Homo sapiens: one gene and its partners. The protein of the gene in region 2 purifies or fractionates together with the protein of the main gene of each other region. This does not show direct contact. Each region holds a gene or a part of one and is shown on either strand. Other genes may lie near its edges.

Region 1 (4,506 bases), on a different chromosome or scaffold from region 2:
GGTGAAGCCCATTCCCGTCCTGTGGTCTTAACCCATTTATTTTTATTATTTTTATTTATTTATTTTTTGAGATGGAGTCTCGCTCTGTTGCTCAGGCTGGAGTGCGGTGGCACGATCTTGGCTCACTGCAAACTCTGCCTCCTGGGTTCACTCCATTCTCCTGCCTCAGCCTCCCGAGTAACTGGGACTACAGGTGCCTGCCACCACACCCGGCTAATTTTTTGTATTTTTAGTAGAGACAGGGTTTCACCATGTTAGCCAGGATGGTCTCGATCTCCTGACCTCGTGATCCGCCCGCCTTGGCCCTCCCAAAGTGCTGGGATTACAGGCATGAGCCACCATGCCGAGGTCTTAACCCATTTATGCTGTAGGCTGCAATTTTGTGAATTTTTGCATGAGTGAAAAATCAGACCTTGGTGATGACCTTGAGCAGTAGGATATAAATAACTCCTACATGCTTAGTGTTCCAATAATGGAACACTAGGCATAAGTAGGTTAACACAGGATCAAACTGGCTTTCACATAACCTCTCCCTGTTTTGTTTTAAGGAAGTAGAAACACTGCTAGAAAAAGACTGGGCTGACTCTCTTGGATGGATGCTAAAGCTCTAAGGTCTTACAAACAATCCAAAGCAGAAGGGAAGAACCAGAAGAGAGTGCACAGCCAACCAGCAGACAAGAGCCCCACTAAGGAAGAGAACGCAAAACCAGGCAGCCCAGCCAAGAGAGCAAGAGCCTGGCAAGTTCTCCACATCGCACATCACACCTGTGTCTTCAGGCCACCAAACCCAGCACTGCAACTCCAGCTCAGAGCAGCAGCCACGTGCCTCAGACATCAGGAGAAGGTGGTCAAGGGGGATTCACCCGCACTAAACCAGCAGAAAGAGAAGGGCTGGACAGGACTGTCACTGTAAGGATAAGCAAAATGGATAAGGAAAAAGGGAAGTGCATTTATGCAAAACTATAGTGAAAAAAGAAAAAAGAAGCATAGTATACAGAAGATAGGTGAAGAATCTACTCGAAAAGAAAAAAACCCCACCAAAATAAAAGCATTCCTCGGACTATTTCACCCTACAGAAAAACCTAAAGAAAAGAACTCAAAAAGCATGAGGGTGAGATAACAGGAGATGAAAACGGAGCTGACAAAGCTAAGGAAATACAGAGAGAAGCCTTAGCTGAGCACTTAAAATAGTTACTGTTCTCTCCTCTGCACTCTCTACCCCATTACTTTGTATCATTAACTAACATCCCCTGTTGTATTTTTTACTGTTTGTCTACCTTCCACTAGAACATAAGCTCTACTGGAGCAGTCAACTTGTTTACTGTCCCCTAACTTATCCCCCTGTGTCTCCAGACAGCTCTGACATAAGAGTGAACTCTTAAAATTGCTGAATAAATAAGGAAAAGATGAATAATTAAAGCAACAAGAAAATAGTAGATGAGAACAAATAAAAATGATCCAACATAAACGTAACTGGTACTTCAAAATGAAAGGTCAAACCATAGAACATAAATAAATGCAAAGATTTAACAGAAAAAATTTTCCTGATTCCAAGCAAAACTTTGGTCTGCCTGTCAGAAAGGCACAGACTCCAGAAAACTTGATATGGAAAGATAAATACAGATACATCTGGGTTACATGAACTAAAAAAAAAAACACCTTATGAGGAGAGATTACAAAGGTTAAGTAAGCCTGGCCTCAGACTTCTCCAAGATATTCAGTGAAAGAAAATGATGGAATAGCATCTTCCAAAAAGAAACAAACTGTGACCCAAGAATATTAATCCAGCCAGGTCATCATTTAAGAATAGTCAATAGGCTCATATGTTTAAACATGAGTCAAAAGAAAATGTAGCCAACCAATAAGTAAAAGGAGAAGCTGCAGTAAGACTGGTGATAGGCAATGAATCGACTTTTTTAAAAAACAGATCAAAGACTAAACAACCAGTAAGAAATATGTTTTCAAAAGATAACTATTATAAAACTTGGTAACACAAAAATAACATTGGAACAAACAAGAGAGAAAGGAGGAAACTCATAGGAAGGAATATGAGTGTTTATTTTCTTCCCTTTCTAAACAGAGTCTATTAAGTCAATAAACAGGTTTAAGTACATTAATTAATGTTACAAAGAAAACCACTAGAAGGACTAAAATAAGACTATAATAAGCAAAACTCTAGAGGTAGGAGGAGGGAGAAGTTAAAGAAACCATATTAGCGTAAAGTTTCCCATTTTCCAGAGCAGGAACTCCATAAATACTGAATAAATTTCCTAATTCATGAAAGAGGGTAATGATATAAACATATAAAGTAATTAAAGGTAACTACCAGAAGAACTGAAAAAAGACAATAAGCTTCCAATAAGCTTCCAAATCCAAAGAAGGAAAGTATGAATGTATGAGCACACACAAAGAAAAAAAGAATCTATATCGCAAAATAGGACTAAGAAAATACTACAAATTAGGAGGAAAAACATAATTAAGGCCAAAATATATCTGATATCAATAAATATTGTGTGAAAATTCACACAATATTTATTCATATCAGATATAAGATAGAATAAGAAAAAATAATATGAGATATAAAAAAGAGTAAGACTCACAAATTGGGTCAAGTGACAAACTATATTTTCCAAAGACAGCAGCAACAATATCTCCTCTTCCACAAAGTCTTCTAGCACCTTCTTATTCCTTATCAAGAGCAGAGCCTAATTCCCATTTCCTTGAATGTGAGTGGGCAGCAGAAGCGATGCTATGACATCTTAGCTAGATTGTAAAAGCTTGCGAGCTAGAACACCCCACAAGTGAAGTACTGGGCTGCCACGTAAGCAGTCCCACCACCATGAGGCCACCATGCCATGAAGAAGCCCAAACGAAGGCACAGGGAAAAACATGTGGAGAGGCCATGGGACCTCATGAAGAGGAGATGGCTCACAACCCCCATCATTCCAACTACTGTCTGACTACAACTACTCAAGACCCCAAGCCAGAATCTCCCAGCAGAGCCCTTCCCAAGATCCTGACCCATAGAAACTGTGAGATAATGGCTGTTGTTGCTCTAAGCCACTATGTTTTGGAGTGATTTGTTAGGCAGCAATAGGTTACCAACCATTATTTCCAGAAAAGACCACTAATAATCTAGAAAACTGGTGGGAAGGGGTTTTTTAGGATCTCTTCTCCAGTATTATAGAGAAAGGTAAAGTTGGGAAGCAAAACTTGGGAATTACATGATGAAGCTGCCTATTCAAGATAGGTCCCTAATGATAAGGACTCAGTTGTAGTTGTTGCTTCCTATGATTACCATCAGACATCTTAATGGATTATTTGAAAGTTCTACACTGATACTCACCAACCACTTTACTCTGAAGGAGAAGAGTGCACTAAAAGCAAATATCACCCACAGTACTGGACAGGCAATAAGTCCCAACCAAAAGATTCTTGATTCAGCCTCTGACACAGTTTTATTCTCTTGAGAGGACTCCTATAAAAGAACATAAATTCAATTATCATGTTGTGAAATTTATCAATAAAAAGTTCAACATGTTTAATAAAAAACATATTACCCACAAGTTCAAATATTAATACACACAGCCCAACTCCTAAGTTAGAACCCAAAAATACATGACTATCACTCTTGTAATTTTAGGAACTGATCTATATTAACTCAAGAATTTTGCATTTTCAGGGCAGGATGGATGGTTTACCACAACTCATGACAGTAAAGAGTGGTCTCTGATAGGATTCTATTCAATTCTTCTTGCACTTGTACTATTTATTCATAAGGAAGCTCTAAATGATACCTTTCCTACCAATGATCAAGGAAATCACAGTTATAATCATTCTGGAGACTAAAAGGTCAAATTAGGGTCCAGAGGAAAAAAAAAAAACGGAATCAAGGGATTCTGGACAATAATCAAAATGTCTTAGCAATACCCAGGAAGTTACAAGGGTGGTAAGTTGTTTCCAAGGTAGATTCTATAATATAAAAGAATACAGGCTCATTGAACACAGTGCCACTTTCTTAAAATAACTTGTCAATACCCTTGGTGTACTGTCGCCAAGAATTTGGTCCTCTGCTTCCAAAACTTATTTCCACAAGGAAAGTGAATATTCACTATAGTGTAGCAGGCTAACCCAAAACAGACCAGGATCCCCAGGGCTCCTGAAGGCAGAAGCTTAGGAATAGAGTGCTCCGATCAGATATTCTATCCAGCTGCACTCCTCCTCCTTTTTCCTGCCCAGAAATGAAAGACGACCACAGGAGCAAAGACAGAACAAGATGTTAAAAGCAGTTATCTGCTGAGCATAGAGGGATTTATGGAGACACTAACAAAGGCAACACAGAGATCTTTTATCAGCAATCCCTGACAGGCAGCTTAGCACACTGTATGAACTCAGACCCAGTGTCTTCCCTCAAAGGATTCTGTTCTGTATATTGCTTGTTTCTGGTCTGAACTAGACAGAAAAATGCATTAAATTCTAGAAGGCCATCTCCTTTAGTGCTGACAT
Region 2 (3,440 bases):
AGTCACAATATATTTTCAGCCTTTTTTGAGAAATAAGTGATTTAGACATCTTACACAGTTACTGAGCACCTGGTACAGTGAAGATCTCTCAAGAATGATTTGTGTGATGTAGTTCGGTGGATCATCCAGCAGAGGGCAGTAGAGCCAGAGCCATAGTAAAAGTTATAGTAAAGTTGCTCTTAGCAACTTGAGTCTTACTTAGATTTAATTTTGCATAGAACCAAAAGTTCAGTTTAGTAGCCATTTTCTTTAAAGTCAGGCTGTAGTGGTTCCGAAATGAAAATTAGGCCCTGATTTTATGTAAGATGATGTCCAATCTTTAATTGACACCTTAAAAATATTAAAAGATTATGATAGGATCAGGAAGGAGTTTTTGAAAATGCAATTTGTAGTTTTTAACAAGTGATGTAGAATAAATAAAAAGAAGTACTTTTTAAAAAGTAAGTATAAAATTATTTTCCAGTTAACTATGGGATATAAATGATTGCTTTAATACAGGTCTTCCTAACCTGTACAGCATTTCCTAACCTGCTCTGTGAAAAACAAAGAAATAAAACTTAGTGCTCTCTTTCTCTAACATTTTATTTTTTAAGAGCTGGGAGGGGGGGGGTCTCATGTTGCCGGCCTTGAACTCCTGGGTTCAAAGGATCCTCCCTGCCTCAGCCTCCCAAGTAGCTGCAATTCCCACATTCAGCTCTCCAAGATTGTATTTTAATGTGAGATATATAGCAGACACACTTATTGATGGTTGTGCTGCAGTGAGCTGCCCTCCTGAGACGGCTCAGCACAACTGCGATGGGCAGGGAGGCATGTGAGAGAGCGCCGCAGACATGAATGGAGATGCTGGTGCATCGCTATTTATGGCAGCACACACACACTTTCCACCCTGTCTTTGCATTACTCTGCCATCTGTACAGCGATGGCAGTCTGTGAGCCCAACGTGTACTTACTTTATAACTTACAGCATATTTATTTCAGCATATTTACTCTTTAAAAATATTTAAACCTTCCTGCTTATTATGATTTTTTTTAAACTGTGCAGATGACTCTGCTTTTGCATGTTGCAGCAGTTTGGCTGATTTTTTTTCCCTCTCTATTCCAAGCACACATTTTATTTCAAAAGGTAAGCTTTAGAGCAGTGCTTCTCAACTTCAATGCAATATGAATCACCTGGGGATGCTGTAGAACTTACAATTTGACTTGAATAGTTTTGAGTGGCCCCTGAGATCTGTGTTTTTTAACAGGCTCCAGGTGATGCAGCACCATCTGTCCCTGGGCCACACTTTGAGGAGCAATGCTTTACACTGTCTCAAAACTTCGAAGGCAGTTTAAGAGTCTTACAAAAGAAGATCCTTGTGGTCACTGCTAGAAACATAGACTGGACACTTATGGCAAATTAATTATAGCCTCAGTCTTCTTAAATTGAGTCTTGGATGTGAGCAAAGTGAATGTATAAGATAAAAATAGTAAAATATATAACTTATAAAAGCCCAAAGAAAATGGCTTTATTTTCAAAACAATTGTAACAATATTCAATAATGTGGTATGAAAAAAGTGGGTTACAATAATGAAACTTTTCTGTTTGTTATACTTGGATATGAGAAAAACTACTAACTGTTGACTACAATTTAATTTTTGTTTCTCATAAATCAAATGAATTCTGCAACTTTTTGTACAAACATGCATTTATTTTTACAGTTTTTGTGGAAAGAGGCAAAACACATTTAATCAAAAACATCAAACACCACATTTGAAAAAAGACTTATCTATTATGTATAAAGGAAAATATCCAAGACAATTTCTTTAAAATATATACAATTCTAACATAGTTATGCAATATATACATTCATATTTTGACTTAATCTGCCAAAATAAACAGGTACATATGAAACTTTATTTACATAATGGCTACAGTTTCAGTCTTTAGAGTTCAAAGAAATAGTTAAGATTTTCACCTATTTCATACTTTTCCCCCATGTTTCTCATTCACCTCTAGAGGTTTAAATTAACCTTTCAAATTGATTAAAATGGGTATGCCTGAATGTACACAAAAGGGCATTGTTTTATGTGTGCAAATTGAAATATTAAAGATGGATCAGGGATCTCAGTTTAAGGAATCCTGCCTTCTGTATGATGATGTCTTAATTTTTGAGATTTTCATATATTGGGTTATAGCTATATATCAGGACAGGTAAATACATTATAAAATTATAACCTTTATAATAATTTTTAGTATAATCACTTGTGTGACTATAATAAATTGGCTTTAGTTTTACTCTTCACAGTTTTAATAGGTAACTATTTTACAAGAATAACATTGCTAGGTAGAAAAATTTCTGTTCAGTTAGGAGTTCTTATTTTGCTGCTGAAATGAGTCATGCACAATTTTAAATCTCTGTAGTTTCTTCATAAGCTATTTTACTATCTTACTATTTTATAAGCCTTGTGTTGCAGTCAAGTTTTTACCACATTCTATAGACCTTGTCTGTACACCATTTATGAAATGGAAATTTGAATATGACATCTTTTATGCCCTCTACTTACTTTTAAAGCAAAAATATTGTTGAATAGGAACACATAGCTTTTATTTAAACAATGTTTTTTCCCCCTAAATTTCTTGTATGAATACTTACCTTTGCTTAAAAGTGCTTGAGAAATACTGCCCCCCAGGAGGCATTTGACAATGTCTGGAGACATTTTTTGATTGTCATGACTGCGGGGGGAGCATGCTCTGGCATCGGGTAGCTAGAGGCCAGGAATGCTGCTAAACATACCTTCTAGGACAGGGCTGCTGTCCTACAAGGTACAGGACAGCCCCTGCAAGGAAGAATCACCTGGCCCCAAATGACAGTAGCGCCCAGGTTGAGAGACCCTGTCCTGGTGTGATAAATGGTGCAGAGACAAGTGGCTAATGGTTTATAGTAATTCAACTACTCCCTGGAAACAGTGTAAACTAGGCTGATTACCTAAGGCAAGGCTAACCAAAGCTTTCAAGTTCCGTATATGTATGTTTAGCACTTATTTAAGGAAGTACTCACCTAAAGGAGGTGAGACAGAGTAAAAGGAAGGATGTGCTATAATTGTTTGTATAGCACATTGAAAAGCTAGTATTTACATATACAGTACTAACTTTTTTTTTGTTTGTTTGTTTGAGACAGAGTCTTGCCCTGTCACCCAGGCTGGAGTGCAGTGGCGCGATCTCGGCTCACTGAAACCTCTGCCTCCCGGGTTCAAGTGATTCTCCTGCCTCAGCTTCCCGAGTAACTGGGATTACAGGCACCTGCTACTACGCCCAGCTAATTTTTATATTATTAGAGATGGGGTTTCACCATGTTGGCCAGGCTAGTCTCAAACTCCTGACCTCGTGATCCACCGGCCTCAGCCTCCCAAAGTGTTGGGATTACAGGTGTGAGCCACCGTGCCTGGCCACATTGTCTTTT
Region 3 (4,506 bases), on a different chromosome or scaffold from region 2:
GCGACAATCTTCAGAAGTAGGTATTAAAATATGCCCTATTTTACAAATAAGGAAAACTAAGGCTTGGGGAATATCAGAAAAGACAGCAAGTCTATCACACAGGAGGCTCAAGATTCAAAGTGGTGCCAACCTCAAGAAGCTTATGGGATTTAGGGAACTGGAGACACAGATAAAAAACATAAAGGGCACAGTGAATCTTCATGTATGCTCTTTTGGATGGACTGCTACTTTTTAATCTATGTACTTCCATGTTACTTAAATTGTTTTTCAATGAGCTTTTAATAATTAAAAAACAAAACAATGCCCCGACCACATAATCACACAGACAACCTGACGTCTCACAGGGTCTGATCAGAAACATGGTTCCACTTTTTCGGGTTGTTTATTTTCCTTCTCTGCGGGGTGTGGGGCAGATTTTATTAGCTTAGAGCGCAAGGAATGAGCTAGCTCTGCCCAGAGGATCTGTAGGTGAAAGGGGAAGCATTAATGCCTCTGAGAATACAGAATTCTCCCAAGGGAGTGTTAATGTGGGACAGGAACTGGCGACAGGAGGCGCACTGTGCGGCACCCGCTGGCCAGTGCAAGGCCACCAGGATGAGCCCCTCAAGCTCTGAGTGGGCACTCTGCTGCCATGTGGCTCTCCTCAGAAGGGAGAGGAGGTTTGAGCTGGTGGGAAGGGCAGCTGGCGGGGCAGCACAGTCCTTAGTGACTTTGTCTCCTCTTTCAGACCAAGAGAAACAGCTGAGGTGGTCCCCTGGAGGAAGCCCACAGGGAAGTTCTGCTTTTCCACTCCAAGACCATAGCTCCTTTTAAGAGCCCCACAGCCTCCACCATAAGAAGGAGCATCCCCACTGAGCTCATCAGCACCCACTCGGCTCTGCTTCTGAGGGGTAAGGGCGAGCCTTGGGGAGTACATCTGGAGACTGCAGGGCCAGAGAACAGTTGAGGAGTCCCAGAAGGGTTCTGCAGCTAGGAGCACACAGAGATGCGTGGAGTAACCTCTCATGTTTGTCATTCTAACACTAGAGAGTTACCTTTTTTTTTTTTTTTTAAGAATTGTGGTCTCACTCTGTCACCAGGATGGAGGGCAGTGGCATGATCATGGCTCACTGCAGCCTCAAACTCCTGGGCTCAAGTGATCCTGTTTCAGCCTCCAGAGTAGATGGGACCACGGGTGTGTGCCACCACACATGGCTAATTTTTTAATTTTTTTGTAGAGATGGGGTCTCACTATGTTGCTCAGGCTGGTCTTTAACTCCTGGGCTCAAGGGATCCTCCCACCTCAGCCTGCCAAAGTGCTGGGATTACAGGTGTGAACTACTATGCCTGGCTTAAGAATTGCATTTTAAGTCATTCTATATACCAGGCACGATTTGACACAAAATATAATCAAACCTGTGGCAAAAGTGAGTGACTTACAAATAGATTTTATATTTTATTCTTTTTTATAATAAAATGCAAACTGCATGACTATAGTCATGATGACATTCAGGAGTCTGGGCAGCTGTGGTCTTCCTACACAGCAGTCCAGGCCTATCTTGTCTCAAACTCTCCTCCTACTCCTAATAGTTCCCCTAGAACTAAGCCAAAAAGAAAAGGGTTACTAACCCCAAACCAATGCAGAGAGCTCTCATATGAGCCTGCCCTTCTCATGAAGAAAGGCTAACAGATGATACAGGCAAGTTGCCTGGGTCTCATATTCCACTCCATTGCCTGCTAGCAGTGCAAGCTTGGGAAAGTCACTTACACCTCATGTGCCTTGATTTCTTCCCCTGAAAAGGGAGGGTAATGGTGGTATCTGCCAGTAGGAATGTGCCCAACTTAAATGAGCCAACACACATAAAGGCTTAGAATAGGAACCAGCACACACTGCTAAATTAATGCCAGCAATTATTACTCCTACTAGGAAGATTTGAGCACCATAACCCCCTACAGGAGCTACAAATACGAGTAACCAGGTAAGAAGAGGGTTCAACCAAAAAATCACTCTGCTCGTCCCATGCACACTCTCGGCATGATGTACAGAGTAGGCCAATAGTTCGCTGGCATTCACTTACTGCGGGATCTTTAGTGCAGCAGGAGAATGGAACGCCACATCGCTCTCGACTTGCATTGGAATCTGTGCAATTGAAGTAAATATTTAGGTTCCAATCATCAGCTCCAAAAGCCCCACAGCACTGCCACTAGAGCAAACAGGAAAGAATTAGAACATCCCAACTTGGAGGCAAGCAGTCACCTACACTCACACCCGCCGAACGACACCAGCTTCTGCCAGCTCTGACCTTCTTTTCTGTCCTAGACTTTATTTTTAAGCCAAACTGAACCTAAATGGCCCATATAAAATCTTCCAAATTAATTAGGGCTGAAGGTTTGTAGGGATGTGTTGGCACGTGATTTAAACAACTGATGAGACCTGTGGTGTTAGGTGGAAGAAGGGCAGAGCAGCTGTACAGCAGGGCTCAGTTAGAACAAGATCTGTTTGGCTTGGGCACGTCATTCTAGAAGGAGAAACAAGAACATTCTAGAAGGGTAAATAAGACACTAACGACAGTGGTAGTGACTGAAGGAGGCAACTGGGGTTATGGGTGGGCTAACTATAGCTTACTTTTTCAAAGTTTTGATCTCTACATTCTAATAGTTTTTTTAAAGATCTGTTTTGTTTTATGGAGCGCAGGGAGACCCCCTGAAACTATTGCTATGGAATAAAAGATGAAATGCTCCTGATTACTGGAAATACAAAATTGCATGCAGGATTGTGTAAAGACAATGCCAGGTTGGACTGCCAGAATGAGCCAACAGTGCGTGATGTGCTTCCCCCTGCAGAGAGCCTATGAATGGACGTGCAGTCAGGGAGGTTTCACATCACCAAGATTCCTATCCCAGAAAAGCAGATGTTCATAGCTCTGGGAATAGAATGCGACCTTTGTGGAGAGCCTATAAACAGACACATGAGGGGCACCTGTCCATATGTATAAGACAGGGCTATAAATGCCCTCATCTTGCCACGGCTCTTCTAGACCTCTTTAGGGTTAAGGCATACTCCCTTCTGAGAATTTCTGGTCTAACTGGTTGTGTAGCTTCACGTCCTGTTTCTATGGATTGTTTGTAACTGGCTTTTGCTGCAACTGTTACTGCTGACTAATATCTTGCTAATCATAGGTTGTGGAAAGACTGTGTTTCTGTTTTAAGGCTCTGTTAGAAATTACTGAAGCACACACTATATTGTAAATTCTTATCCCTGTATACTGTACTTTTGCATACAGATGTTATGTTAAAGAATTACTTCATCCCCATGTGACCATCTCACCTCATAATCAAATGACCTAAATCCCTCACTAACCTACCCCCACCCTCACTAAACTTAATAATAAATTCTGGTATATCCAGTGCATTGTTGGCACTGCGTGACCAGAAGGCGGTGACCCCCCTGGACCCAGCTTTCACTATCTTGTGTGTGTCTATTATTTCTCGACCTGCCGATCCGCCTGGGAACAGAGAGATCCCTGTTGCATTGCAGGCTGCTGGCCAGATCCCGCAATAATGGAGGTATAACTGACATACAATAAATTGCACATTTTAAAGTATACAATTTGATAAATTTTGACATCTGTATACATCACAAAAATGTCACCACAATCAATGGATATATAGTTGATATATCCATTACCACCAAAAATTTTAGAGGTTAACTTTTCATCATATTTGTTTCTACTCTGAGTTTGTTTAAAAACAAGTGCATGTGTTTTACATTTTCAACTTTAAAAAGTCAGTCTTCCAATTAAAATATATTAAAACAAGCGGTTAAATTCAGTGGTTCTTAAATGGGGCCGGAGTCAAAGGCTACTACACAAGCCCCTTCCTCACTTCCCTGGGATGCACTTTCTCTACTTCTCTGAGTTAAATAAATATCAAGTCTCAACCATTTGAAGACCTTCCGGACCAACAGCTACTTCTAAACATTACATTCCATGATGCAAAAAGAAAATCACATGAAACTGTAGTATTTCCGTTTAAAGCACACAGCATCCCAAGACAACATGGTCCTTCCAGGGCTTGGGTCATGCATTTCGAGGTGTGTCCACAAAGCTCCATCAATGTGTCATGCAAACTAGTCAGGAATAATGCCAGGAAAGGGATTATTAGGGAGCCTGCACCCATTAGGACCTAATAAAACAGTGAAGTCGGCTGAGGACATGAATCAGGGCTTAATTTCCCACTTAAGGGGCAGCTTACTCCAGGACGAAATGTTGCTGCCACTGAACAAAACCACATAACCCTGCTCAGTCCTGAGTGCCTAAGGAAGGGGATGGCCTCCCTCATAAAGAGTGTCAACATGGCTGCTGCCTCCCTTCATCACAGGCAGACAACTATCCAACCCCAAGAAGGCTACCGTTCACTGGGCTTCTGCTTGCCCTCCGGTCCTGCCATATACATGAATGCCACAGACACCGCTGTCCAAGTCCAAGCTCAGCCTACCCGACTTTTCAGTGCAGGTATATAAAGACC
Region 4 (5,007 bases), on a different chromosome or scaffold from region 2:
GATTTGAAAACTGATAACTCAATAGCACTTAAACACTCTTAGGGTCTGGGCCCATTGAACTGCACCAACACAGACAAAATGAAAACACAAGACTAATTTGGAAGAACAGTCAGAAACCCTGAGGAGCTGAGCCTCTGGGAGCCTCCCTGGAGGTGTATTACGAAGAATCAAGTGGAACCCAATCAATTGCACTTTAAAATTAACTTGTGTGAGAACTCAAGGCTTCTTTTTAGGATAATGAAAGCAATGGCAAAAGAAACTACCAGACCACCTCTGCAGAGGGTTTCTGTGCTAGCAGGATGCTGCCACAGGCTATGAAAAAAACAAAAACAAACAAAAACAACTCCCGCCCCCATCAAAAAAAAAAAATCCCCCAAACTTACAGAGGCTAAATAATGTATCAAGTACTGTTGCTACAGACAAGTAAATGATACCCCACTGAACTTATACGGGGGCTTGTTTTCTTTTCAACCATCACATCTGTTGAAATGCATATCAGTTTAGACGGTTATGCGGCCAACAATCAAGTAGAGTTTAAACCTTTGAACATTTTATTTTCTGATTATAAAAATCACAAAGTGCCCCTAGGAAAGATTTTGAGACATACCAATGTACAAAGAGGAGAAATCAAGACCACCCTTCATCCTACCACCCACAGCCAGCCACTGACATGGGCAGGCACAGTCCTGAGAGCGTATGGGAGCTGCTGGTTTTATGTGTTTTTAAGGATATCCAAGAGATCCAAAAGCCATTTTCATTTCCACAGCCCTGTGCATTTGTGTAGGAAAAAAGAACAAGGAATCAGCCCCCTGTTGCTCCACTACAACAATTTAACCATCCGCGAGTATGTCAGTTTTCAAGTTGAGCATGTGGACATCATTACTGCGTTGACTGCCTTAGCCTGCCCAGTCTACAACCAGACCCAGGACTCAGATAAAAAGCCACTTAACTTTTCCTTCGCGGAGAAAGGGGCAGACAGTGGGAAATAAACGAGCATTGTTCAGTGTCCTTTACTATACAGCTTTTGATTCTTAGCAAAATGCCAGTTCTTAGCTATTTCTTTAATGTTAGCAGAGCCTCTGCCTATAAAAAGTGAAGCATTACCTTGCAGTCTGTCTTTTTTTTTTTTTTTTTTTTTTGCACAGGTTCCAGTGGAGAATGTTCTTTCGCACACAATGACATTGCAAGGATGACAAGAATAACCACATGTCAAGCTTGCAGCAAGCACTAGGACCACAACACCTTCTCACCATTACGTCATGGCTACTTCCTTACCAAAGTACTCCCCCCAATTCCTAAGACTTCCAACAGGCTCCGGGAGTACCAAGTTAAGATCTGACTTGGAATTCGACATAAAACTGCACGTGGGCAGGCTTCACATCTCACCTCAAAGAAAGCACACCTTCCCAGGAAGATAAGGTGGAAACAGAGACTGATGGAGAGAACCAGATTCTTAGGAAAACAGACTCTCTCAACCCTCAAGAGAAGCTCTTGAAATGACAACAGAACCAGAAAATCATTTTGAGCCACTGAGCAATTGGTACCTTGCACTTCAAGTGACATATTTAGACAAGTGGACCTCATGGACTGGAGATTTGTTTCTGTCCTGTTCTGGATTTCAGCAGTTTAATTTGCAATTCAAATGATATTAATAACCAGTGATACTGTTTCTTAAAGGGCAATTAGGCAAAAAGAAAAAAAAAATCCCCCAAAGCCTGCTTACCCTTTTACTTTCTAAGTCACAGAAACCAAACAGTACATTTTAGGGAATGCCCCATCCGCCTTTATGTCTTGCAGGGGGTTTCAGAGCTTAATCTCTGTCAATGTGAACACAAACCAACTGTCTTTTTCTTCCTCTTCTCTAAACCGCAGAGTCCCTTCAAACGGGCTCCCTGCAGCCCACCACCCTAAGCCTTCATTTCTCTACCGCTCAACCTTTGAGGTCTACAGTATCCCCCTGGAAAGTGCTCTCGGTGTTTATATTTGCGGAAATTTAAACTCCCTGCTGAGCTGAGCATCTACTGTTGCATCTATAGATTCCAATGCCTGAGAGACCTCAAATGAGAAGAAAATAAAGTCCAGATGCAACTGAGCCAAGGGATTTGGCATCCGCGGAGAAAAGTGCACAGCAGTGCAATCCTCTATCCCAACCACGGCGGCAGAGCCCGGAGCTCTCTCTGGGAAGGAGCCTAAGGAAGTGGGGGGAACTGTGCCATTCACCCCTGCGGGGGGTGGGGAAAAGGCCCCGGCATGAAAAGTTTGCACGGAGCTAGGGGGCTGGTGCCACGGAAAGGGCACTTTCTGATGCCGGAAGGGACCCGCCGGCTGCGCCTCGCTCAGGCTGGCCGGGGCCGGTGTGACCGTGTGACCCCGTGCACACTGCGCTCGGGTTTTCGTGAATGACAGCAGCCTGCAACTCCCAGCCGGAGAGCAGCGGTGGCCACCGCCGGGCGGAAAGGGTTACAAGCCAGAATGCAAAGCGATTTCGCCCCGGGTGTGGGGGACCCCGGGTCCCCGGCCACCTCCGAGGCCGGGCGTGCTCTGCTCGCCTTCCTCCGCCCTGGGCGCCGGGGCGATCCTACCTTGCGCTCCAAGCTGGGGGTTCTCCATGTTCGTCGCCGCCGAGTCCCCCGCCGCCGAGGCGCTGGCCGCGGCTCCCGGGCCCGGGCCGGGGCCGCCGCCGCCGCTCAGTTCCGCCAGTCTCCGGTTGGTGGCCGTGAGTTCGGCTCGCAGGTTGGTCACCTCCTGGCTGGCCGACTGGACCGCCCCATCGATGCGGAGCGCGAGCTGCTTATTGTCTTCCATCATGCTCAGGATTTTGGCCTGGGGGCGAGAGAGGTGACAAAGAGCTGCATGATGCGCGGGGGGCGCGCGGCCGGGCACCCCCGGCTCTACCTGTTGTGTCCTCCGCGGCCCGGCTTCGCCCGCGCCCCGACCCCCAGGCACCGGCAGCGCCGGTTCCTCCGGCACAGGAATGACAGCGGCGCCTCCAGCCCTAGCCGCGGCGGTGGCGAGGCGGCGGGGGGAGGAGGCGGAGGAGAAAAAAGAGGAGGAGAAGGAGGAGGAGGAGCAGCGATCGCCGAGACCCCGGCGGGCGGGCGCCGAGAGCTGCTCCAAGAAGGACACCGCGCGCCACCAGGCACTCTTTAAATGGAGCCTACCATTCGCCGCCGGCTCGGGAGGGGGTCTCGGTCGGAGGCTGGGGGCACCCTTGGCCTCCCGCGCCCCCGTACTTCGGAGACACACCCCCCGGGGGGGCGGAGGCGGCGGACGGCAGTCGGGAGGGGGCCAAGGTGGCGCCCCTGGCGAGGGGCAGGGGTCGCCTGGACCGAGGCCGGCCCTCTGTCCCCTCCCTTGAGCGGTGGGGCAGCCCCCGCCCTGGAGAACTGGTGCCCCGAGCCGTGCTAAGGTTGGGGAGGTGCTGGGTGCTCGGAAGAGAGGGTGCTTGGAAAGGGGGCCTCAGAGGGGAGCCGGGGTGGATCTCCATGGAAGGGAGACGCTTGCGCCAGCTCAGGAGTGGAGTTCGTGCTCCACCGGTTCCTTAAACTGCGAGTACGAAATCCCCAGAGGGGAGCTGAGCTGGTGCCCCGCGTGCCTCTCACTCTCCACCCCCCACCCGCAGGCCAGACCTGCGCTGCCCACCCCAGGAGGGAGCGCCTATCTTCCTCGGCGTGGGCCGCTGGTGCTCCCGCCTCTCCACAGCCCTAGCCCTGTGTGTGCATCCAGGTGGAGGAGCAGCCTTAGCCAGCTCCTAAGCTTCTTAGCCGGGCTGAATATTGGCGGGGACAGAGATGAGGTTGAGAGATAAGAAGGAAGGCGTCGATGGGGCTTCTTCCCTTTCTTCTACTGGGAGCAGAAGAGTTGAGCCCTGCTGCCTCAGTTTACCCATCCCCTCTTCACAGAAGAACTGAGGTAACCTGACGTTGATATGCCCTCTCCAGCTCCTCTTTCTCTCCCAGACCACAGGCTTTGCATTTTTCACTGGGGCCCTGGATTCCAGCCACCAGACCTTGTTACCATAGCAAACTTCATTCCATGCAAATAGGACAATTTAAAACAGCCAGCAACCCTCTGGTCAACAGGGCGCCATCATTCCAGCTCAGTCAACCTCCGGAGAGCAGCAAAGAGCAGATTGCAGAAGCCAGTGGGGTGCTGCGAGGAAAAATGAGGCTGCCCACCCTTCAGGTTCTTACAGGAAGCCCATAAGAACCAAGCAAAAACTGCGTGTAGAGTGCTTTTATATGCATTCTTATCTCTTGTGAGTGAGGATTATTATTCCCATTTTAGGGATAAGGAAACTGAGGCTCTGCATAGGGTTAAGCAATTTACTTAAGGGGCCCGCAGAAACCAGGTGACAGCGGGACTGGAAGAAAGTAATCATCTGATTGCAAGTTCCTCCTGCTGCGCCTTCAGGAGGCCTTGGATGATAGATTTCTCCCCCCTTTTCTGTGGAACCATAAAAACAGTCTTGCTCCATTCCCCTGTGACCACTAACAAGCTTTTGCAAGAGGGCAGGATTTGATGGTGGAGCATGTGGCAGGAAGACACAATTCTTCACTCTGTCCGCTCTGCTCAGCTAATGGGTCAGTTCGGGGATCGAACCCTGACCTTAACCTCATTAACACAAGTTCTTACCAACTGGACCAACCAAGGCACTTAGAACTGCTTAGTGTATCTGCAAACCAGGATTCAGTTCTTTGCAGTCTTTCAGTTACGTTATGGGGAGAGCATCAAAACTACAGAGCTGTGTGGGTCTTGAAAAGGGGGATGCCGTGGTGCAGCCATTGTGGAAAACATATTAGCAGTTCCTTGAACAGTTAAACATAGGATTACCATACGACCCAGCAAATCCACTCCTAGGTATATGTCCAAAACAAATATCCAAACAAAAATTTGTACATGAATGTTCATAGCAGCACTGTTCATTAGTAGCCAGAAGGCAGAAATAACCCAAATGTCCATCAACAGATGATTGGATGAACAAATTGCAGTATGCAATGGAATATT
Region 5 (4,108 bases), about 120 Mb from region 2:
AAATGACACAGATCCAAACCATATCACTTTTTTTAATGTAAAACTTCTTAAGGACCCGAGAGAACTGAGAACAAAGGGCCTTTTGGAAGTGGAGTTACTGCAGGCACTCACACAGCCTTCGACTTGTATCCCTGTAGCTAGTCAGCAAGTCTTTGCCAAGACTCTACCTACCAAAATTAGACTTCTTAAAAAGAATTAAAAAGCAGTTCAGAGCACCCAACTGACTTTTTTCCCTCTTGCAGAACACTTAAGGAGTTCCGTGATCGACCGAAAGGACTTAATAATCAAAAGGATTAAGCCCAAACCCCAGCAAGGAGATGACATCACAGTGGTAGACGTAGAGAAGCAGATTGAGGCCTTCCGCAGCCGCCTGATCCAGATGCTGGGGGAGCCTCTTGTCCCCCAACTCCAAGACAAAGTGCACTTGTTGAAGCTCCTGCTCTTCTATGCTGCGGACTTGAACCCTGATGCAGAGCCCTTTCAAAAGGGCTGGAGCGGCTCCTGAGGGCCTGCCAAGCACTGAATGCCAAGAATACCTCCTGAACTCTCTCTCCAACTGCTCAGAAGCTCTAAAAGCATGAAAAGTGGTTAAAATCTTACAGGACCAAACCTGCATTATTTAATCAGTAGGTTGTAATTTCTAACTCTAGTAAATATCTTTTTTTAAATAATCCTATCCTAGCCTGTTCTCAAATATGGCTTAAATATACAAGGTATATATATTTTTTAATAAATTATTTATCTATACTTTTTTGAAACAGGTTAATACTCTGTGCATCACATGTTTAACATTTTCATTCAAGATGTGGAAAAAATCCCTCTGCTGAACCTAGTCTATACACCAATATTATGTCATTCAAGGTACCGACAACCTGTTTCAGGAGAGAGACGTTCATTTTTCCCTAATGAAATGCAAGCATTCTGTTAGACCTATTATATTGCCTGTTAATTTGACTGTAATGAATAGGGGGTAGAAACAAAAGGATCAAGTGTGTTATAAAACATTTGATGTTAAAAGGAGACAATAAAAAGGCAATGGTTTTTCAAAATACCAAGTTCAGTGTGACTCTGGGTGGGTAGAGTGGAATAACTATTGTTAAAAGGACAAAAAAATAGCCACATTTGAGAAAGTAGTAAGGATTTTTATTGTCAAAACGAGATCATAATAGAAGACACAAATAAATTAATTGTTCTCATAATTTTAGACTCCAGGGCCTCTCTATGGAAAGGCCAGCTTCTTATACAGACAAGGTACTATCCAAAACAAAAAGCAGGTATTTGAGACAGTGTTCAAGACAACAAGTGAACTTGTACACAGTGAAGAGAAATAAAAAGGTGGCTTCTGTATTTCCCTCCCTCAGTAAGGTTATGTGTTGCATAAAGGGATGAGGCTCATTTTGGTGAAAAATGCTTTCATACAGAAAATTTTGAATTGAGTGACCTCCCCGCACAGGCGTTCCAGGCCCTGACCTGAACAAGGAAATCAAAGTAAGTTAACACCACTGGCTTCACATGAACCTCAAGACTATAATCTAACGGTATCTACCATCTCCTTTACTTTAAAAAAGTTTAATGTCCATTTACCTATACCAAATCAGTAGACTTAATTTTCTCTCTTAGGAAGTTTTTAACCAAATTACAGCTAAATTAATCTCACTTTAAAGTGCAAGAAAGGCTCTGCTAGAGTAGTGTTTGTTCTGTGGCATAGAAAGAGGAGCATGCCTCCTCCGGCACTGGCCTAAGAGGCCCCACATGAAGAACTAGCTGCAAGACAGTGATCCATTAGGTCTGCCAAAAAGCAGGGGGACTCAAGGTTCAGCCTAGAAAGAGGGGTCCCTGCCAAGTCTGGCTTTTACCTGTACCCAGGTCCCAAACAAACCTTGGGTCCCCTAACTGATAAGGCTGGAGCACAGCACCAGTCATCAACAGGGCCAAAGTCGTCTTAGCGAGTCAGTGAGCACCTCTAAGCCATGATTTGTCAATGCTCACATGGATAGTGGTAAAGGAATAAAGAAGCCTGGGTTTTGGAACAGTACAAACATTCTTTACCTAGTAAGCAGTGATCAAAGTTCTTACCTAGGGTAAATGATGAAAAAAATAGGTAATGAGGTCCCCATACACCCGTGCTGAGAATATTAGTCTAACTTTAAAGCAGTACAAAATGGCTTCTTCCACACAACAAGGGCAAGCTTTATACTAATGTTTCTCAAAAACCAATTACATCTCCAGCTCTAGCCTCAATTTAATAGGTTTTTTACTTTACTTTATTTATTTATTTATTGATGGCGTCTCGTTCTGTCGCCCAGGCTGGAGTGTAATGGCATGATCTCAGCTCGGTACAACATCTGCTTCCTGGGTTCAGGCGATTCTCCTGCCTCAGCCTCCCAAGTAGCTGGGACTACAGGCGCCCACCACCACGCCCAGCTAATTTTTGTATTTTTAGTAGAGACGGGGTTTCACCATGTTGGCCAGGCTGGTCTTGAACTCCTGACCTCAGGTATCCACCTACCTTGGCCTCCCAAAGTGCTGGGATTACAGGCGTGAGCCACCACGCCCAGCTGATTAAGTTTTTAAATATACCTTTCCTATGTCAAAGCCAAGGTAAAAGGGGAGTGGGATGCAAGAAACCACCTTTACCAGAATCCCTGGAAAGAGGGCTCTAGAAGCCAGTGGGTGTGAGCACATTCAGGTCACGGGGTTTGAGGTTATGGGCCCGTGGTGGCTGTTTCTTTCCTTCCATCACTGGGATGTCCATCTTGGGGGGCTTCAAGGCTGCTGGATCTTCAGCCATTCGGTTGGCCTGGGCACGTATCAGTTCCAATGGAGAGGGCTTCTGGGCTCCTCGGTAGGCCTGGGTGGCAAAACTTCCTACAAAAGTGAACCAGAGTGCAAATGATTTCAAAACCAGTAAACAGCTCCCGGTATACAATATGGTAAGATGTCTGCCATGCTGCTCTCTTTTTTGAAGGTGCTGCCTTACCAGAATCGTACTTCTGAAGGGATCTCGGTCCAAAGAGGCTCCACTTATCTGACAAGTTTCTGTCCTTATCCCCACTTCCAGAGTCCATGGTGCTAGGATTTGGGCCAGGTAAGGCTGTGGAAGAACCAGAAGTGAACCAGCCCCTGGGAAAGAAAGAACAAAACATATCCTAAAATACCTCTTCCTTCGCCCCTAGAAATGTCTCACACCAAAAGAACAGGGAACTATCCCTTCTCCCTCTGAAACCACAGGCTTAAATACAACCTCATCTGCCACACTAGCTTTCCTGAAGCACGCAGGAACTCGGAAGGGTCACAGGAAGGGCTCACCTGGGCCTCTGCTTAGGTGAAGAGTGCGGAGTGGTGCTTGGGGTGGACTGGGCTGATGCAGGCTGCCTCTCTTCTTTTGTTACCTCTCCACTCTGTAACTTTAGTTTCTGCTCAGATGGGTAAGAAGAGAGACTTTTTAAAAATGAAAGCAAATTCCAAACAGATAAGTCTAGGCATAAAAAATTTGGTTCGCATTCTAACTTTAGGCAGAAGACATCTACAGGTGGAATGATTTCGGATGATCTAACAGGTAGTCCTTTGTTTTTGCCATACTAGATGGAACTCCATCTCCTTAAAAAATGTGTTCATTCTACACTATATCATGAACATCCCTGTACTTAAAGCTTTACACTACAACTTTTACTTTCAGAAACGTGAAGTAATTTCCCCACATTCCCCCAGACAGTAAAATGGAAGAGCCAGAACGCTAGCTGCCAGCCTTCTTGGCCTTTTAAGCAGGGCTTAAGCTCTTGTCTCGCTGCTGCTCCTACCATGTACAAAGCCCTGCCCATCCTCAGTCTCTCCAAGCCAATACTCAGGCATGCTGCTTCTCTCCAGCTAAATGCTTCCTCTGAGGAGCCTGTTCCATTCTCTCCTCCTTCTCTCCCATAGTCAGCCACTCTGGGTTCCCTCAGCACCGTGAGCATTCCTCTGACTCGCAGTCTAGTGGGGAGAGACAGGTCTACATCTCAGCTCTTCTAGAGCAAGGTTCCCATGCTGTTTCCTCCCTCCAGGCCTGCCACGCCACTGCTTAACCCAAGCTGCACACCAAACAATGATCACGTTTGAATTTTCTCAA
Region 6 (4,506 bases), on a different chromosome or scaffold from region 2:
TTCTTACTAGTCATACCGCCACCTCCCACTGTCCCTAACCTGGCAAGCACCAATTTGTCCTCCATATCTATAATTTTGTCATTTCAACAATGCTATATAAATGGAATGATACAAGATGTGACCTTTTGAGAAGGGCTTTTTCACTAAGCACAATGCCCTTGAGATCTATCCAAGTTTTTGCATCTATCAATAGTTCTTTTTTCCTTACTTTTTTTTTTGCTGAGTAGTAGTCCATAGTATGAATATATCACAGTTTGTTTAACCACTTACCTATAGTAGGACATTTTGGTTGTTTCCAAGTTTGGGCTGTTACAAATGAAACTGCTCTGAACAATTGTGTACAGGTTCTTGTGTAGACACAGTTTTCATTTCTCTGGGATAAATGCTCAGAAGTATGGTTACTGGGCTGTATGGTAAGTATATGCTTAGTTTTTAAAGAAACTGCCAGACTTTTCCAGAGTGGCTATTTCATTTTACATTTCCATCAACAATGTAAGAGTGATCTGGTTTCTCCACATCCTCACCAGTATCTGGTGCCACTATGTTGTAACCATTTTTAACTGAAAAAAACAACAAACAAACAAAAACCAGTTAAAAAGTTATCTGCACAAAAAGGTTAAATGGGGCAGGACTCTTACTATGGAGTATAAGTTCTTTTCTAATAAGAATACTTACTTGTCACGGACTTTGAGGATTTAAGCATTAGAAACCATTTTTACTATGTCGTGATTTTTGCAAATACAGGCATAAATGAGAAACAGAATTTGCTCAATAGAGAAGTGAATTCTACTTAATAGAATGCAGATAATAGTGACCATTCTTTGTGCCTTTTTAAATTTTTTGGAGGACTAGGACTGAATACATGGAAACACTATAAGATATAGTTTTATATACCTCTGTGCCTATGTATGATATAGTCCATTAGAAGGAGCACTGGACTTGAAATTAGAAAGCTGTTTTCTAGACTTCACTGTTTAATAGCTTAAGAAAAGTTGGATAAAAAACTCAACCTATCTGTCCCTCAAATTCTTCTTAGTACAGTAAAGATGGCATCACCATCATGGAAATGTTTGAGATATAAATAATACCTCTCTTACTTAACAAAATTTTACTAAGTGCCTACCATGTGCCAGTCACCGTACTAGGCATCACAGATTCTGTGATGAATAAGACATTATTGCTGATTTCAAGGAAGTGGTTGCAGTACAAATATGAAGAGTGAAGTGACCTAACATTTATTTGCACATGTGCCACATACTTTATGTAAGTCGTGTCCTGTTATCCTCTCAAGAACTCTAGGAGATAGATGGAGTTCTTACCATTTAACAAATAGGGAAGCAAAAGAGATTCAAGGTATTGTTCAAGGTCAGAGTAATAGCCAAGAATTAAACCTAGATCTCTTTGGCATCAAAACCCAGTATTTTTACCACCGTAATATGTGGTTCATGTGAAAACACCTTGTAAATAACTAAATACTGAATGCAAATACTAGTAATCATAAAATTTATCATTAATATTTCTGTTCTATTAGCAATACAAAAACTTGAAAACTTAAAGTTTATTTTTCTCTAAGCTATTAGAGTTTTGTTTAGAAAGGTCAGTTCAAGTTCCGCAGTGTTGCCAATTCCATTATTATCAACAGGACATATGGTCTGTTTATAATGAAGACATGAAGGCATTGCAAGATCTTTGTATTAGTTTTCTAGTGCTGCATAACAACTACAAATATAGCAGCTTAAAACACTACCCATTTTTTAGCTCAAAGTTTTGTAGGTGGCAAGCCTGGTCATGGCATGACTGGGTTCTCTGATCAAAGTCTTAAAAGACTAAAATCAAGGTGTTGCCCAGGGCATACTTTATTTGGAGTTTGGGGTCTTGTTCTAGGCTCACATAATTGTGACAGAATTCAATTCCTTGTGATTGTAAGACTGGGGTCCCTGTTTCTTTGCTAAGTATCTGCCAAGGAATTGTAGCAGCTCCTAGAGATTGCCCTCATTTCTTGCCCCATGGCCCCTTGCATATTTAAAGCCAGCAAAGGAGAATCTTCCTCTTGTTGAATCCCTCTCACATATTGAGTTTATTTTGCCAGGAAGAACCCAGACCCTTTTAAGAGACCACTTGGTTAGGTCAGCTCTCTCTCCCTCAAAAATAATCTCTCTTTCTTAAAGTCAGCTGATTTGGGATCTTAATTACATCAGCAAACTCCCTTTTGCTGGGTGATATAATCATGAAAATGAAATCCAATACATTCACAGTCCTAGTCTCCCACACACAAGGGGAGGGAATTATAAAAGATGCATGGCTAGGGCAGGGGTTTTGGGACCACCTTAGAATTCTGGGTTTGATTAAATAAATAATGGGACTGTAGCCTAGCAAGTCGACACATCAGAAAAGCCATCACAATCCTGAAACATCAAGTAAAAATTTGGTTTGCATTTTAGGATTGTAAATGTTACTGTGGTGTATGCGTGTGTGTGTGTGTGTAACCTGGTGTTCCCTATGTTTGTGGGAGTTTGAAGGAGACACTTTGTTGATAGGAATGGTGTCTTCACTTTTTTAGGTTGTCTCATTTTTGTACAGTGATAAGACAAATGAGGTCCTGGGTTTTAATAACACTTCAGCTTGAAAGCAAAAATTAAACACTTATTCATTGACTACACCCTTGTAATATCACTTCTTTGCCTTTCCACTAGCAAGAAGTTCATTTTCGTGGAAGCCATTCTGCCTGTCCAGGAATTGGAGGAGAGTGATAGACACAGTTGTCAGCCATAGCTTGGGTAGAATAAGGATGTGAATGTCCTTGGCTTATCTTTATTAATCTTGTGATGGAAAAATATCTGACATTGTTCTTAGTCCATTTTAAGCTTAATTTATGTTCTTAGTGGCATAGAAATTCAGAGCTGAAAGAAGTATCATGTCTCACTCTCCCCTTGAGGAACAAGAGTTAACGTCATCTGACAGTACTACCATAACAAATCAATAGCTTAATAGGCATATAAGTGGCTTTATATAAAATGTTGGTTTTTTTCCCCCAGCATCTCAGTTGGTTCTTAAATATCTAATTCCATGATCCTCAAACTTTTCCCACTGTAACAAATTAGAGAGAGGAGGAACATGTTCATCAGTGACTGTAGTTCAAATACAGCAGAAATGTGCAGCAGTGATTTCAAACTGAGAGAATCCTGGATGCCCTTCTCCATTGTGTGCCCCCCCCCCCCACCCGCCCCACATATCAGGGAACAATTTAAAATCCTGGCACAATAATGAGAAGGGAGAGTGACAAACTGATAAGTTCCAGTTAAGAATCACTTAGACAGGCCAGGTGTGGCAGCCCACGCCTGTAATACCAGCACTTTGGGAGGCTGAGGCAGGTGGATCACCTGAGGTCAGGAATTTGAGACCAGCCTGGCCAACATGATAAAACCCTGTCTCTACCAAAATTACAAAATTTAGCTGGGCATGGTGGCGCCTGCCTATAATCCCAGCTACTTGGGAGGCTGAGACAGGAGAATTGCTTGAACCCGGGAGGTGGAGGTTGCAGTGAGCTGAGACCACACCACTGCACTCCAGCCTGGGCAACAGAGTGAGACTCCATCTCAAAAATAAAAAAAAAAGAATCACTTAGACAGTATTTTTTGTTCTGTAATCTTCCTCTCTGTCATTGAAATGTCTCATATTTCTTGTTTCACATAGAATCTGGGAGTCATCAAGTAGTCATCTAGTCTATCTCATCATCTAATTTACGAATTATTTCTATCACACCCCAAGTAGCTGGCGATTCAGATTTTTTACTGAAAGCTTGACATGATGAGACATTATTACTTCCCAGAGGATCTTGGTCTGTTATCAGGCAATTTCAGTTCTTCCTTAAATCAAGCTAAAACTTGCTACTATTCTCACTCACTGGGAGGGCTGTAGTATTTCTCTCAAGTTTATACCTCTCTGTGATGAAAATCTCTGTTCTTTTAGCCATTGCTCATGGTTTCGGGATCCCCATTCTAGTCATCTTCCTTTGGAGCAATTCCCTGTTAGATCTTCAAATGTGATGAGTAAAACTGAGCTCAGGACTGCGTTTGTTGGTCACACCCTTCTCCCTTCCAAATGACTGCTGCTGTAACTTTCTGACAGGTCCTGCTTCCCTGTAATCCATTCTCCATGTGGCTGCCAAAGAAGATTTGAAATAAGTCAGGTTATTTTTCTTCCCTATTTAAAGCCTTCCAGCCGCTTGTCATTGCTCTTAGAATAAAATCCAAACTCTCCCAACAAGCTTTTAAGACTCTACATGGTCTTGCCCCAGCAAACTCTTCCCATTTGATCTCATCACTGAATTCCAGTCACAATGGCCATCCTTTGGTTTCTCAAAGTTGCCGTTCCTTTGGCATCTCTTCCTCCCTGTCTTCACAATGTAGGCTCCTTCCCATCCTAGGCTTAGTTTCGTTCCTCTCCCTAGAGGCCTTTCCTTACTGCCTCAGCTTCTCCCACTCTGCACACTCAGGGTCCTCTGCA
Region 7 (3,357 bases), on a different chromosome or scaffold from region 2:
AGGCTGGTCTCGAACACCTGACCTCGTGATGGCCCACCTCAGCCTCCCAAAGTGTTGGGGTTACAGGCGTGAGCCACCATGCCCGGCCTCTTGCTACTTTATTTCTATTGCCCTGGCTACTAAGAGCCTCACAAAAAATCTAGATCCCATGTCTTCTGGCCCGAAGGTTTGAGTGGACTGACGCACGCAAGTCCCGGCATCTCCAGCAGGGGTCGACCGACACCACGCTCTGCATGCGTTGCGCGGCAGCCATTAGGCACACTGAGGGCTGCAGGGAGCGCGGTAGGTGGACCTGTGGGCAACTCCGCTTCCCTGGTCCCCCACCCCATCCACCCCATTTCCTGGAGGTGGAGCCTCATGCTGTACCTGGCCCAGGCTGTTTCCCTCGGTTCTCGGTAAAATAGGCGTGGTCACCTCTGGCCCTGAGGCTTTCCCCCCAACCCCCCACCTGTATCCCAAGCTATGCCAAATCTTCACCCCATGCACCCCCTTCATCCTCGCATCCACAAGGGGTTTCCAAATCCAGGTTGCAGCCTTCCTTACCCCCGCCCCAACAAAACAGCACACAGGAAAGGCAAAAAAAAAAAAAAAAAAAAAACATGTTTTTATTGTTTGATTAACAAACTGGTTGGGGGAAGGGCAAGAATAAGACATGCGGGGAAATACCAGCTTTGATTAGTCAGAAACTCCTGTTATCTGTACAAAAAAATGAATGTTACAAAAATCACGTAAAAAAACTAGGCTCAAGGAAGCAGCCGCCCTTGCAAGAGGGCTCAAGGCACCTGGGAGGCTGAGAAGAGGCCAACCTGGCCATGGGCGTGGCTGCATGGACAGCTCTTCCCTCCTGCCCTTCCCCAGATGCCCTTCCCTCCTGCCCCGAGGGGCACACTCCCTCTCCCCAATTACAGGTGCTACAAAACTGCCTTGAATACCACCGCCAAGGCACTGCCAGAGATGAAATGGGCCCTGAGCAGAGCCTCAGGCTCTCCCTCCCCCGTAGCCCAGGCCTGGAGAAAGGAGGGCCTTGTTCCCCAGGCCCCAGGTGGGCACAGATTCCAGAGCTGCCTCGGGGAAAGCCTCTTAGGGGAGGCCCAGGCTCTGCTCCCTGGGGAGGCAGAGGCCGTGGGACCTACACACAGGCACACACAGCCCTGGCTTTGGTCAGTACTGAGTGTGGGCAGAGGGGCCGCAGCCCTGTCCAGCCCCACGATGTTGACTGAGAGGTGCTATCCCAGACGGTCCTTGTTGGAGCTGCCATGGCAGGCTGGGCCCTAATTGGGGTAGCACAAGCAGCATCCCGTGCCTGCCGCCTCCACGCTGGGCTTGGCACCGGGCCCCAGGAGCCCATCAGTGACAGAGTGCTCCATGATGATGTCCTCCACCCGGGTGATGTACAGCAGCGTCAGCAGCACCCCCAGGAACTGAGAAGAAGGGGCAGGGCTGGTGAGGGCCTGCTGGGAATCAGGGCAGCCCTCCCTGCAGCTCCCGGCTCCCAGAAACCCAAGCAGCCAGTCCCAAGCCCTCATGGTCCTGTGTGACCTGGGCAACACCCACAGCAGAGACTTCTCCCAGCACCCACACTGCCCAAGAAGCTCCCACCTGGGCCCCCTCTCCCCTTCCCAGGAAATCCCAGAGCGCCTCGCTGTGCCCCATCAGCAAGGGCCCCTCCCTTCTGGGATTCCTGCCTCCACCCCAGCTCTGCTGCACACTATCTAGGGGATCTTGGCAAGTCACTGAAGCTTGCTGCTCCTCAGTTTCCTCCTCTGTGAAATAGGCATTATAATAGTGCCTCCCTCACAAAAAGAAGTGAAGCAGCAGTGCCTGCGCAGCACTTGGAAGAGCTTCGCCACGACTGCTATTGCCATTTGCCCCTCCTTCCAGCCATGCAGCCCTCCCCAGGCAAGTCCTGGACTTCTATGAAAAAAGCCTCTTCGCTCTTCCCCTCTGCACCTTCTCTGCCCTTCTGCAATCACCAAGTCACACTTTCTCTGAACCCACGGCCTGCCCACCTGGGGAAGCAGGATGCCCAGGAGGATGCCCGCCATGATGGTGTAGTTGTCCATGAACCAGATGATCACGGCGTTGGTGCAGCCCCGCACGTAGATGACATCCTGCACACTGAAACGCTGCATGGGAAGGAGCTGGGTCAGCCCAGCAGAGGACCTCGGCTGGCAGGAGCCACAGCCCCGACTCTGCCATGTACACAAGGTCCAGGCTAGTCCCTCAACCGCTGTGATCCTCAGTTTCCCATATGCAGCATGAGAAGGTGACCCTAGATTCTGATTCTTAATGGACAGTACTGTTCTCTAGAGAGGACTGGGGACACCGTGGTGGCACTTTTGGTTGCCCCAGCAAACGAGGTTGGCGGCTGAGGGACTGCAGAGCTCAGGGTAATCCTACTCCACAAACAACTGCCCTGCCTGTGTGCTTCTCAGATGTCCCTGCATGAAAAGCCTCACGGATGTTTTCCATACATGAAAAGCCTATTTATAATTATCCAAGCCAATAGCCCCACTCCAGGTACATATAAAAAACAAAGCAGAGTTGGGCATGGTGGCCAGTGCCTGCAGTCCCAGCTACTATGGAGGCTCAGTTGGGAGGAGTGCCTAAGCCTAGGAGTTTGAGGCCAGCCTAGGCAACAGTGAGACCCTGTCTGTCTCTTAAGGGAAAAAAAAAAAAAAAGCATTTCTGCATTGGTTTTAATATACAAAGAATTTTCCAGAAGTACTACTAGGTAAATTAAGGAATGATTACACATTATTTAATTCAGAACTTTATCAAGAATTGTTCACCGTTTTTAAAAACCATGCCAGTGGCAAAAATGATGCCCATGGTATGTGAGTCGCCAACACAATGCCCAGTATCAGCTGCCCTGTAGCTACTACAGCCTCAGGGATGCCTCACATCAGTGCAGACACCTGACTACATTGTGTCTTCTGCACCCCCCACTGCCTAAGCACTTACATGATGAACTATGTTAAACAGCTGTAAATTGCTGTATTTCATTTCTACTTTATCTCAGATCATTATGTTAATTGTATTGGAATTGGGCATGTAGGTAGGTTATCTGTGAATTTCACTTGGGGATAATAAATAGGACATTACCACTGTTTGTTATAAAAATGGCCATTGGTTCTGAGGGGCTGAGAACCACTGCTGGTCTATGGCTCTCAAGCATGTGTCAGAATCACCCACTAGCCCCATACCAAGAATGTGCATTTCTCACATTCCTAGGGGATGCTGTTGCTGCTGGACTGGGGACCCCACTTTGAAAGCCACTGCTCTGCATGTCAGGTCACTATTCCTTTTAGGTCCCTTCTCAGCACCACCCCTGCTTCTCTCCTAGACCAGGGGTGT

What was found.
Region 1: the proteins of ITGA2 (region 2) and TVP23B fractionate together in Homo sapiens (co-fractionation; one large-scale study listed by BioGRID). This does not show direct contact.
Region 3: the proteins of ITGA2 (region 2) and TSPAN5 purify together in Homo sapiens (co-immunoprecipitation; one large-scale study listed by IntAct). This does not show direct contact.
Region 4: the proteins of ITGA2 (region 2) and KAZN fractionate together in Homo sapiens (co-fractionation; one large-scale study listed by BioGRID). This does not show direct contact.
Region 5: the proteins of ITGA2 (region 2) and KIAA1191 purify together in Homo sapiens (co-immunoprecipitation; one large-scale study listed by IntAct). This does not show direct contact.
Region 6: the proteins of ITGA2 (region 2) and CD47 purify together in Homo sapiens (co-immunoprecipitation; one study listed by IntAct). This does not show direct contact.
Region 7: the proteins of ITGA2 (region 2) and TSPAN15 purify together in Homo sapiens (co-immunoprecipitation; one large-scale study listed by IntAct). This does not show direct contact.

Annotation. Positions count from the first base shown.
Region 1 is NC_000017.11:18,797,784-18,802,289, reverse strand, and holds part of TVP23B (Golgi apparatus membrane protein TVP23 homolog B), read right to left. Parts: intron 3,479-4,506; coding exon 3,347-3,478; intron 908-3,346; coding exon of another isoform or gene 905-907; exon of another isoform or gene 861-904; intron 1-860.
Region 2 is NC_000005.10:53,092,816-53,096,255, reverse strand, and holds the end of ITGA2 (integrin alpha-2 precursor), read right to left. Parts: 3' UTR 1,477-3,440; downstream 1-1,476. UniProt on the Homo sapiens protein: Integrin alpha-2/beta-1 is a receptor for laminin, collagen, collagen C-propeptides, fibronectin and E-cadherin. It recognizes the proline-hydroxylated sequence G-F-P-G-E-R in collagen.
Region 3 is NC_000004.12:98,476,628-98,481,133, forward strand, and holds part of TSPAN5 (tetraspanin-5), read right to left. Parts: intron 2,184-4,506; coding exon 2,058-2,183; intron 1-2,057. UniProt on the Homo sapiens protein: Part of TspanC8 subgroup, composed of 6 members that interact with the transmembrane metalloprotease ADAM10.
Region 4 is NC_000001.11:14,596,799-14,601,805, reverse strand, and holds the start of KAZN (kazrin), read right to left. Parts: upstream 3,122-5,007; 5' UTR 2,824-3,121; coding exon of another isoform or gene 2,809-2,823; coding exon 2,583-2,808; intron 1-2,582. UniProt on the Homo sapiens protein: Component of the cornified envelope of keratinocytes. May be involved in the interplay between adherens junctions and desmosomes. The function in the nucleus is not known.
Region 5 is NC_000005.10:176,344,941-176,349,048, forward strand, and holds the end of KIAA1191 (putative monooxygenase p33MONOX), read right to left. Parts: intron 3,417-4,108; coding exon 3,310-3,416; intron 3,124-3,309; coding exon 2,981-3,123; intron 2,869-2,980; coding exon 2,660-2,868; 3' UTR 1,122-2,659; downstream 1-1,121. Other genes in the region: SIMC1 (SUMO-interacting motif-containing protein 1), read left to right, coding at 243-505. UniProt on the Homo sapiens protein: Potential NADPH-dependent oxidoreductase. May be involved in the regulation of neuronal survival, differentiation and axonal outgrowth.
Region 6 is NC_000003.12:108,073,424-108,077,929, reverse strand, and holds part of CD47 (leukocyte surface antigen CD47 isoform 1 precursor), read left to right. Parts: intron 1-4,506. UniProt on the Homo sapiens protein: Adhesive protein that mediates cell-to-cell interactions. Acts as a receptor for thrombospondin THBS1 and as modulator of integrin signaling through the activation of heterotrimeric G proteins.
Region 7 is NC_000010.11:69,504,893-69,508,249, reverse strand, and holds the end of TSPAN15 (tetraspanin-15), read right to left. Parts: intron 2,127-3,357; coding exon 2,010-2,126; intron 1,422-2,009; coding exon 1,272-1,421; 3' UTR 584-1,271; downstream 1-583. UniProt on the Homo sapiens protein: Part of TspanC8 subgroup, composed of 6 members that interact with the transmembrane metalloprotease ADAM10.